Linked DNA regions of Homo sapiens. The protein of the gene in region 2 interacts with the protein of the main gene of each other region in a biochemical or structural test. Each region holds a gene or a part of one and is shown on either strand. Other genes may lie near its edges.

What was found. The genes of interacting proteins can lie anywhere in the genome.
Region 1: the proteins of ERBIN (region 2) and UNC93A interact in a test that uses a peptide from one of them, tested with the Homo sapiens proteins (one large-scale study listed by IntAct).

Annotation. Positions count from the first base shown.
Region 1 is NC_000006.12:167,311,523-167,315,314, forward strand, and holds part of UNC93A (protein unc-93 homolog A), read left to right. Parts: intron 1-3,664; coding exon 3,665-3,792.
Region 2 is NC_000005.10:66,020,284-66,024,535, reverse strand, and holds part of ERBIN (erbin), read right to left. Parts: intron 3,215-4,252; coding exon 3,151-3,214; intron 1,247-3,150; coding exon 1,172-1,246; intron 231-1,171; coding exon 86-230; intron 1-85. UniProt on the Homo sapiens protein: Acts as an adapter for the receptor ERBB2, in epithelia. By binding the unphosphorylated 'Tyr-1248' of receptor ERBB2, it may contribute to stabilize this unphosphorylated state.

The DNA.
Region 1 (3,792 bases), on a different chromosome or scaffold from region 2:
GTCTAGTCTAAAAATACTCTTTTGCTCTGTTGGCTGTTTTCAGGGTGATAAACTCAGAAAATCTCACTTCTTCAGTGCCCTATTCACTTAACCTGTCTTCTCTGACTAAACAAGATTGCTGGACTTCTCATCCACATCCTGGTCTCTTTAACCCTGGGCCACCTGGGAAGAGGAGGCAGACAGGCCAGGCTGAGAGCAATGCTTTGTCTTTCTAAATACAGCTTTTATTTTGAAATAGTTTTAGATTTACAGAAAAGTTGCAAATGTAGTACAGAGAGTCCCCTTGAAAGGTACCAACCTATAGATCCAATGCATTTACCCCGTAGGCCCTGTGCCAGCTTCCCCAAATGCTGAGCATCTCACAGAGCCACGGCACATTCGTACAGCTAGGAAGTAACGCTGCCATGTGACAGTTAGTGGGGGGACAGCCTTTATTTGGGTTCCTCCAGGCTTCCCACGAGGGTTCTTTTTTCTGTGCCAGGATCCTGTCCTGGATTCCCTGTTGGACTCAGTCATCGTATCTTCTGGCTGCTCTGTGACAGCTTTTCATTTTCCTTGTTTTTCATGACCTGGACCCTTTTGAAGAGCACCGTAGTCTGTAGGCTGTTCCTTAATTTTGGTTTGTTTGCTGTTTTCTCATGATTAGGCTGGGGCTGTGGGTTTGCGGAGGACAGCTCCCTGGTGAGGCACTTTCTTGTCCCGTCATATGGGGGATACAGGACAGGGACAGGCCTCCTCACCAGCGATGTTAACCTTGATCCCGTTGGCTCCGTGGTGCCGGCCACATCTCTCCACTGCAAACCCACTGCCTTCCCTTTCCACACGCGGTTCTGCGGGAGCGAGTGCCCAGGGAGCCAGCAGTCAAGAAGACAGCAGCTAATCTCCACCCTGAGGAATGTCTATGTGTACTCTGTAATTCTTCCATAAAAAACGCCTGTCCCTTCTCCCCGATGTATTTATTACTCAATCATTGATCTGCATCAGCATGGGCTCGTATATTTACTCTACACTTTGGGTCACCATCCAACACCACATTATTTCTTTATTAAGGTGGTAAGACACGGGGCTTATTCTAGCCCCCACTGCGTAGCTGTCGCTCCATTCTCCGGCAGCCAGAAGCCTGGTTCCCACTAGGTATGACTGCTTCCTTATGTGTTCAATCTTTTACATGTGTACAGTCATTTCAGAATTGTTGAAATACCATTTTCAGTCTACTTTCCTTTTTAAAAAATGTCTTTCCCCACTATGTCCTTAGCTGTGGGTAGTTCCATGCAATTCAAAACAATAAATGCATTGCTTTCTTTATGTTTGGATTAAAATAGGAACCAAATCTTGAGTAATTCCCTGAAAAGCCTGAGTTTAATTATCACTGGCATTGGCCTCTCCTCCCCTAGACTGGGCTGATGTCATCCACACGTGTGGCTTCCCCTTTCCCGAGTGGGACAAACGGTTTCCCCTGATTCTTCCTCCGTGTTTCTTAAAGGCAGTTCCAGCGGCTTCATCTGGGTCCTAGGCGTCTCCCTCTGTGGGTGTGGACCCTGCTTCTGTGGGTAGAGCTGGATTAGCAGACAGGCAGGAGTGAGGGTGTCACCTCTGTCTGGGGCCACACCTGTCTTCTTTGGCCTCCTCCATTCTGTTTTGTGGCCAGGGGACAGCCCACTTTCCAGCCACCTTCTGGGTCCCCAAGTCCTCCATGCTGGGGAACCTACTGTCTCCCAAACACATCTAGGTGATTTTGAACACAAGTATGTGAGCTAGAAGACAGTCTAGCTCTTTCTCTCTTTGTTGTAGATCTCCTCACTAGGTCCAGATTTTGGAACCAGAGTCAGAGAATGTCAAGTTCTTCATGTGACATGTGAGGCATTGAGGGCCCGGAAAGTTTATGTTTATGGAAAAACTCAGAGGGCCGAGGAGAACATGGCTACTTATGAAGAAGCTGAATTGGCCTTGGACCAACCAGAACTTGACGAAGGGAGATGGTGGGGGGGCTGGGGGAGTGGAGTGAGTCCCTTTCTTGGAGGACAACGATTTCTAATCACGGCAGCACAATATAAATTTCATCTTGAAATTCTTGAATGACAGCAACCCATATTCCCAAAAAGTTAGCTTAAAATTAGAGTTGCCTGTATTACTAGAATATTTATAATCTGGGTCCATTGGCTCTGGTTTTCCGACCTGCCCAGGGTGTAGCCGGGAGCTTTTAGCCACAGAACATGGCATGATCTACCACTTATAGCCATGGTGTCTCAACTTGGATTTTCTTCCCTAGAACCTTGGTTTTGGATCCCATGCTAACAGTCACCATCAAAAAACAGACAAGAGGTGTTTAGAATAGTCTCAGAAGCCAACTAAATCAAAATTTGGTTATTCAGTTCTCTTTGGTCATTACTTTTATTAAGGTGGACAATGTGCAGACTGTGGGACAAGAAGGGTGCCTTGTCCTGAGGCTTCCAAAGAGCTTCTTGTTTCCCAAACATCCATGAGCTGTTGACAGTGTGAATCTTAGGGCTCTAGCAGGGCACTCCCCTGCTGTAAGCGCATCTGCGTTGGTCTTCAGCAGTAGAGGGAGCATTCATGATGTGAGTTGTTTCGTATAAAACTCATTAACACATTTAGTGCTGGGCCTCCCCACACACGGCATTGTCTCCAGCACTAAGGGAGGGGTGGGCAGAGCGAATCTTCGGCAAGACGGTTCTTTCCACACTCCTGTGTGTCTTGCGCTGAACCAGGTGCCATGGAGTTTACAAAATTAAATGCCATCCTCCCTGCCTCAAGGACCCCATGGCTGGCAGTCTGGAATCCTCCTGGGGAACCACATGCTTCTGCCCCTGGTTTCAGGCCCTGCTGCCTGCAGTTAAGGTCACCGCACACCCTGCCTCACCGGGGCTCAGGCTGCCACTGTCCCTGCTCCTGTCCCTGCCCCCCACCTGCCTACTTCGCCTCAGGCTGTGGAGGGTTTTCCTGGGTCTCTGTGGCCAGCAGCCTGGGTGGAGCCCCAAAAGGAGCCCTGTGTTTAAATCACAAGCAGGAAAATCCTGGGGCTCCAAAATCCCTAAGCTAAAGGGAAAAGTCTAGCTGGGAACTGCTTAGCACCAACGTGCCTCCCGTTCTATTCAAAGTCACCCCTCTGCTCACTGAGAGAAATGCAGATCTGATTGTTTCCTTTGAAGAGGCTAATCAGAAACTCAAAAGAATGCCACCATTTGTCTCTTATCTACCCGTGACCCGGAAGCCCCCTCCCTGCTTCCAGTCTTCCTACCTTTGCTTGGAGTTGTCTTGCCTTTCTGGACAAAACCAATGCTCATCTTAACCAAACCAATGTTCATCTTACGTATGTTGATTGATGTCTCATGTCTCCCTAGAGTGTATAAATCTACAGTGTGTTCTGACCACCTTGGGCACATCTCGTCAGGACCTCCTGAGGCTGTGTCACGGGCACCGGTCCTCAACCTGGGCAAAATAAACATTCTAAGTTAACTGAGACCTGCCTCAGGTTTTCGGGGTTCATGCTATCATCTGGCATGTAAAATCATTCTGTTGTGAAAAAAGAAAAATGTCTTGATTTAGTTGAGAAAATGGGGCAGTGGGAAAGCTGTGCTCTTTTCACAAACAGGGTCACTGTGGGGCCCATGGCAGAGCTCTCACTCCGCTCTCTCCTCTGCAGCTCTCTACGGCGTTCTGTTTGAGAAGAGCAAGGAAGCTGCCTTCGCCAATTACCGCCTGTGGGAGGCCCTGGGCTTCGTCATTGCCTTCGGGTACAGCATGTTTTTGTGCGTGCACGTCAAGCTCTAC
Region 2 (4,252 bases):
CCTCATAACAAGTGAAATTTGAGATTATGTGGAAGTCTCGAATTTATTTTAATAAAAATTACATGAATTTGAAAGCAATACAAACCAATAGTCTCAGGAAGCTGCTGAAGTGAATTGCTTGATAATAGGAGGTCTTGAAGGTTTTCACATGTTGAAATTCCTTCTTCAACCATTTCAATATTATTTTTAGAAACATCCAAATATGTGAGCTGTTTCAAACTACCAATAAACTATAAGTAAAAAAAGAAAATCTAATGACTCTATTAACATTAGTAATTTGTAAAAAGTTTAGGGAATAAACTTGATACCAAGTTTTAATTCAAAATTAAATGCTAATACAAGAAAGAAGACTCCCAGGTAGTTTTTTAAATGCCATTAGAAATGTATTCAGTAATATAGCTAAGATGTTCTACTAATTGTAGCATAGCAGAAGTGACAAAGGACATATTCTTTGGGAATTCAGGTATCCATTACCTCCTAAGGAAATAGCATATATGGGGATTCTTGTGGTTTTTTTTATGGGAGTAAACAATTTGTCAGTTGTTAAAACAGAAAGTTCGGCTGGGCGCGGTGGCTCACGCCTGTAATCCCAGCACTTTGGTAGGCCGAGGCAGGCGGATAATGAGGTCAGGAGATCGAGACCATCCTGGCTAACACGGTGAAATCCCGTCTCCACTAAAAAATAAAAAAAAATTAGCTGGGCATGGTGGTGGTCACCTGTAGTCCCAGCTACTCAGGAGGCTGAGGCAGGAGAATGGTGTGAACCCAGGAGGCGGAGCTCGCAGTGAGCCGAGATCGCACCACTGCACTCCAGCCTGGGCAACAGAGCGAGACTCTGTCTCAAAAAAAAAAAAAAAAAAAATTCAGAAAGTTCATGAAAAATATCCTAGTTTACCAATTCCTTGGGCAAAGCAAATTGGGACGTAAGTTCAAGTGATACCATTGGAAAGGACACACTCAACAGTATTAAAAGGAGACATACAAATGTTTATTATGAGAATTCTTAGATTATAATCAAGAATGTGCTCATGAAAAAAAGTAATTTGCTTCTGTTTAATAAAGAATAATTCAATTTTTTTATTAATTAAAAGTAATTATAAAAGGTACAATTCACAAAACTGCAAAGGAGAGCCAGAAATAAGTGATGCCATTTAAAATCTCATATACATACCCCTGGAATAAAAGTCAGTCTATTAGCATCCATCCAAAACTCTTTCAATCCACTTAGTTGCTCAAGTACTTCAGGCTGTTGGGATTAGGGTAGGGGATAGCAGTAATTCAATTAATTTTTATGAATGTCTTTATCTGGCAAAAGAAGCCCTGGGAATTTCTAATAACCTTTAGTTTCAAATCATTAAATAAAAGGAGCAGGGAGAAGGAAAAATAAAAAAGAAGAGCCAGGATGTAAGCCTTTCTACTGCATTATAGTTACTACAGTAAAATTATTATAGAAAATTATTAATGGAGAAATCAAAGAGACATGCCATAGCAGTAGATTACAAAAAACACATTTAAGCTTTGGATTACACAACAGGGGCAAGTTTTTATATAATTTGTAAAGAAATAAAAAATAGGACTCACTGCTTAGAAGTATACAATAAAAATATGCACTCATGCATTATCAGTAAGAAGATACAGCTTTTAGAAAACAGAAAAATTACAAATGTTCCCTGGTGACATTCATTAAGAAGGAGATAAAAGACAACGTGCATCCTAAATGTCCATAATCAGGGAAAGGTAAATAGACAAAGTCATAACTACATGATACAAATATACTGTAATTTAAACCTCTAGTAAAAACTTCTAATTACATGGTAGAAAATTCTTTATAATATGGTGTTGAGGACATCAAAATTAATCCAAGTGTTGTGGCAGACCTTCATATCCAGGCAAAATTTGCTCCTGGGCATTGTCCCTTCAAGTCTGCCCTCTTCAAAGTTATTTCTATCACCTCACAAAGCCATCTGCAATCAATGATCATGTGATGGCACAGAGTACTATCACATCTAATGACCATAGTTAACAGTCATATATAAAAGGCATGCCAATCAGATTTACTGTTAACATATAAATATAGATAAGAATCCCAGATGTAACTTGGATTAAAAGAAATTTCCTTTTGTGCATTACTGTTAAATTCTACTGTAAGTTTTAAAAAGTGTATAATGTTGGAAGACCAAAATGGTACAAAAACTAATGACGATTTTGAAAGCTTGTTGGATTCTTAAAATGAACGAGATTTTTGAAATAGTTAATACGGAAACGGATTCATACAGAACAAATATTGAGAAAGGACGTAACAGATAAATAATTTGGGAAGCACAGCATGTATTTTAGAGAATGAGGTACTCCAAAGTACCATGTTCCTCCTCAAACCTCAGCTGAAATTTATAATATTAATATAATACCCACAGGGCAATACTATAGCAAGCAGTTTTGAGAAATTCCTAGGCTTAAAACCATCATTTGAGAGCTACCACACTTTTAAACAACAAACTTGTAAACTAATTTAAAAGTTTAATAATGATACTCAGCTGGATGAGTTCCTCTTCAAAAAAAAAAAAATCTAGCTTATTTTCTGAGTTCTTTTGGAAAACTCACTAAAGACAAAAGCTACTTAAACACTACTCCTTTCCTTTTAGAGTCAGCTTCATAGCGCACTTGGCATACAAAGCACAAACAAAAAGGTTCTCATTACCACTTCAAAAATAACAGTTGTTTCACTCAATGATTTTCCCCTTAGCTATTAAGTAACATTATAGAGAAGTATCTTATTACTGAATAAGTTAACAAGCAATACCCCATGGAGCTCTCTCTGATTCAGAACTACTTTTACCTGCTGCATTCCAGACTGATGTTTCCCACTTATAATCACTCAAATTTTCTGCTTCCTATGCTAAAAATTGTTTAGTATCTCTTCCATGGACCTCTCATTGATTTTACATTTTATGCTCACTTGTGGTCAGAAGTTCATCTGTCTGGTTAATTTTTCTATCTGTCTGGAAAGTTCTGGCTAAGAAATTTCATATCTTGTAACTAAGAAAAAAAAGTAAACCTTTATCCAATTTGTAAGAGAAATACATTAATTTTCATATTTTGTTCTTCATTAAATATAAGAACTTAGGGAAAGTGAGACTGATGAGAACTTACCACTTCCGTGAATTCGTTACTTCCCAAATCCAGTCTTTCCAGCTGGGTCAGTCTATTCATAGTTCTGTTCATAATGGAGTAATGAAAAATTAACTAGAAAAATATCAATTACATGGAAGCTTTCAAAACAGTCTAAAACATTCTTATGGAATAGGTAATTATTTATGGGCTTTCACATGTTGACAAAATAAAAATATTAATTTTCTAAAAAATTTTAAAAGTCAGATTTCTAGATAAAATAATTATCAGTTATTATCTTATTTTGCCTTCTCATTGGTCTTTTCATTTCTATTTTTAAGAAGCAATTGCAATAAATTTAAACCCACAAGCCAGAATACAAATAATGAGTTTCTATTTTTTCACATAATGAATTTTCATATAGTACAAGTCAGCTAATAAATGTTGGCAGATGTATAATAATTACTACCATAATTACAAAAATTCTTTTTCAAAACTGCTCATATATTTGTAAGACTTTAAGATAACTGTAACTCCGAAAATTAATATTCAAAATGCTAACAGTACGTTGTATTACTCCCCACATGTTCAAATTAAATACAATACAATTCAAAATAAAGTTTTATATGAATCACAAATTAGTAGTTGACATTTATTTTAAATAAAAGCAATAATATACTATTCTTAACTTCCAACTTAACATCAACACTTCTCTGAAATTACAGGAACTTGAAAGATGTACAAACCAGTTTGTAATGAAATAAACTATGTTGCACTTCTATCTTTTCTCTCTCCTTTTACAAAGGTACCCTTTGAAACTAATTCAAACAAATATTTACACTCTTAAGTGGCTATTTTTGTACAACACCTATTATTTAATACATTGAGATGTAACCAGTTACCCAGATAAGAAATTCTGTATTAAGGATTTTGTAGGATATGACAAAATGAGAGCAAAATATAGTTATAATCACAATATCAGTATATTACATTAATATGTTAATACTTTGAAAATGAGTATCATTTAAAATCCACAGGCACTTCAAATTACGGCACGAAAAACACAGACTATTTCTATCTTCTCTGGAATTTTAACAAAAATTAGTAATAAGTAAAATAAAACTCAGTTGCAACATTTCTCCAG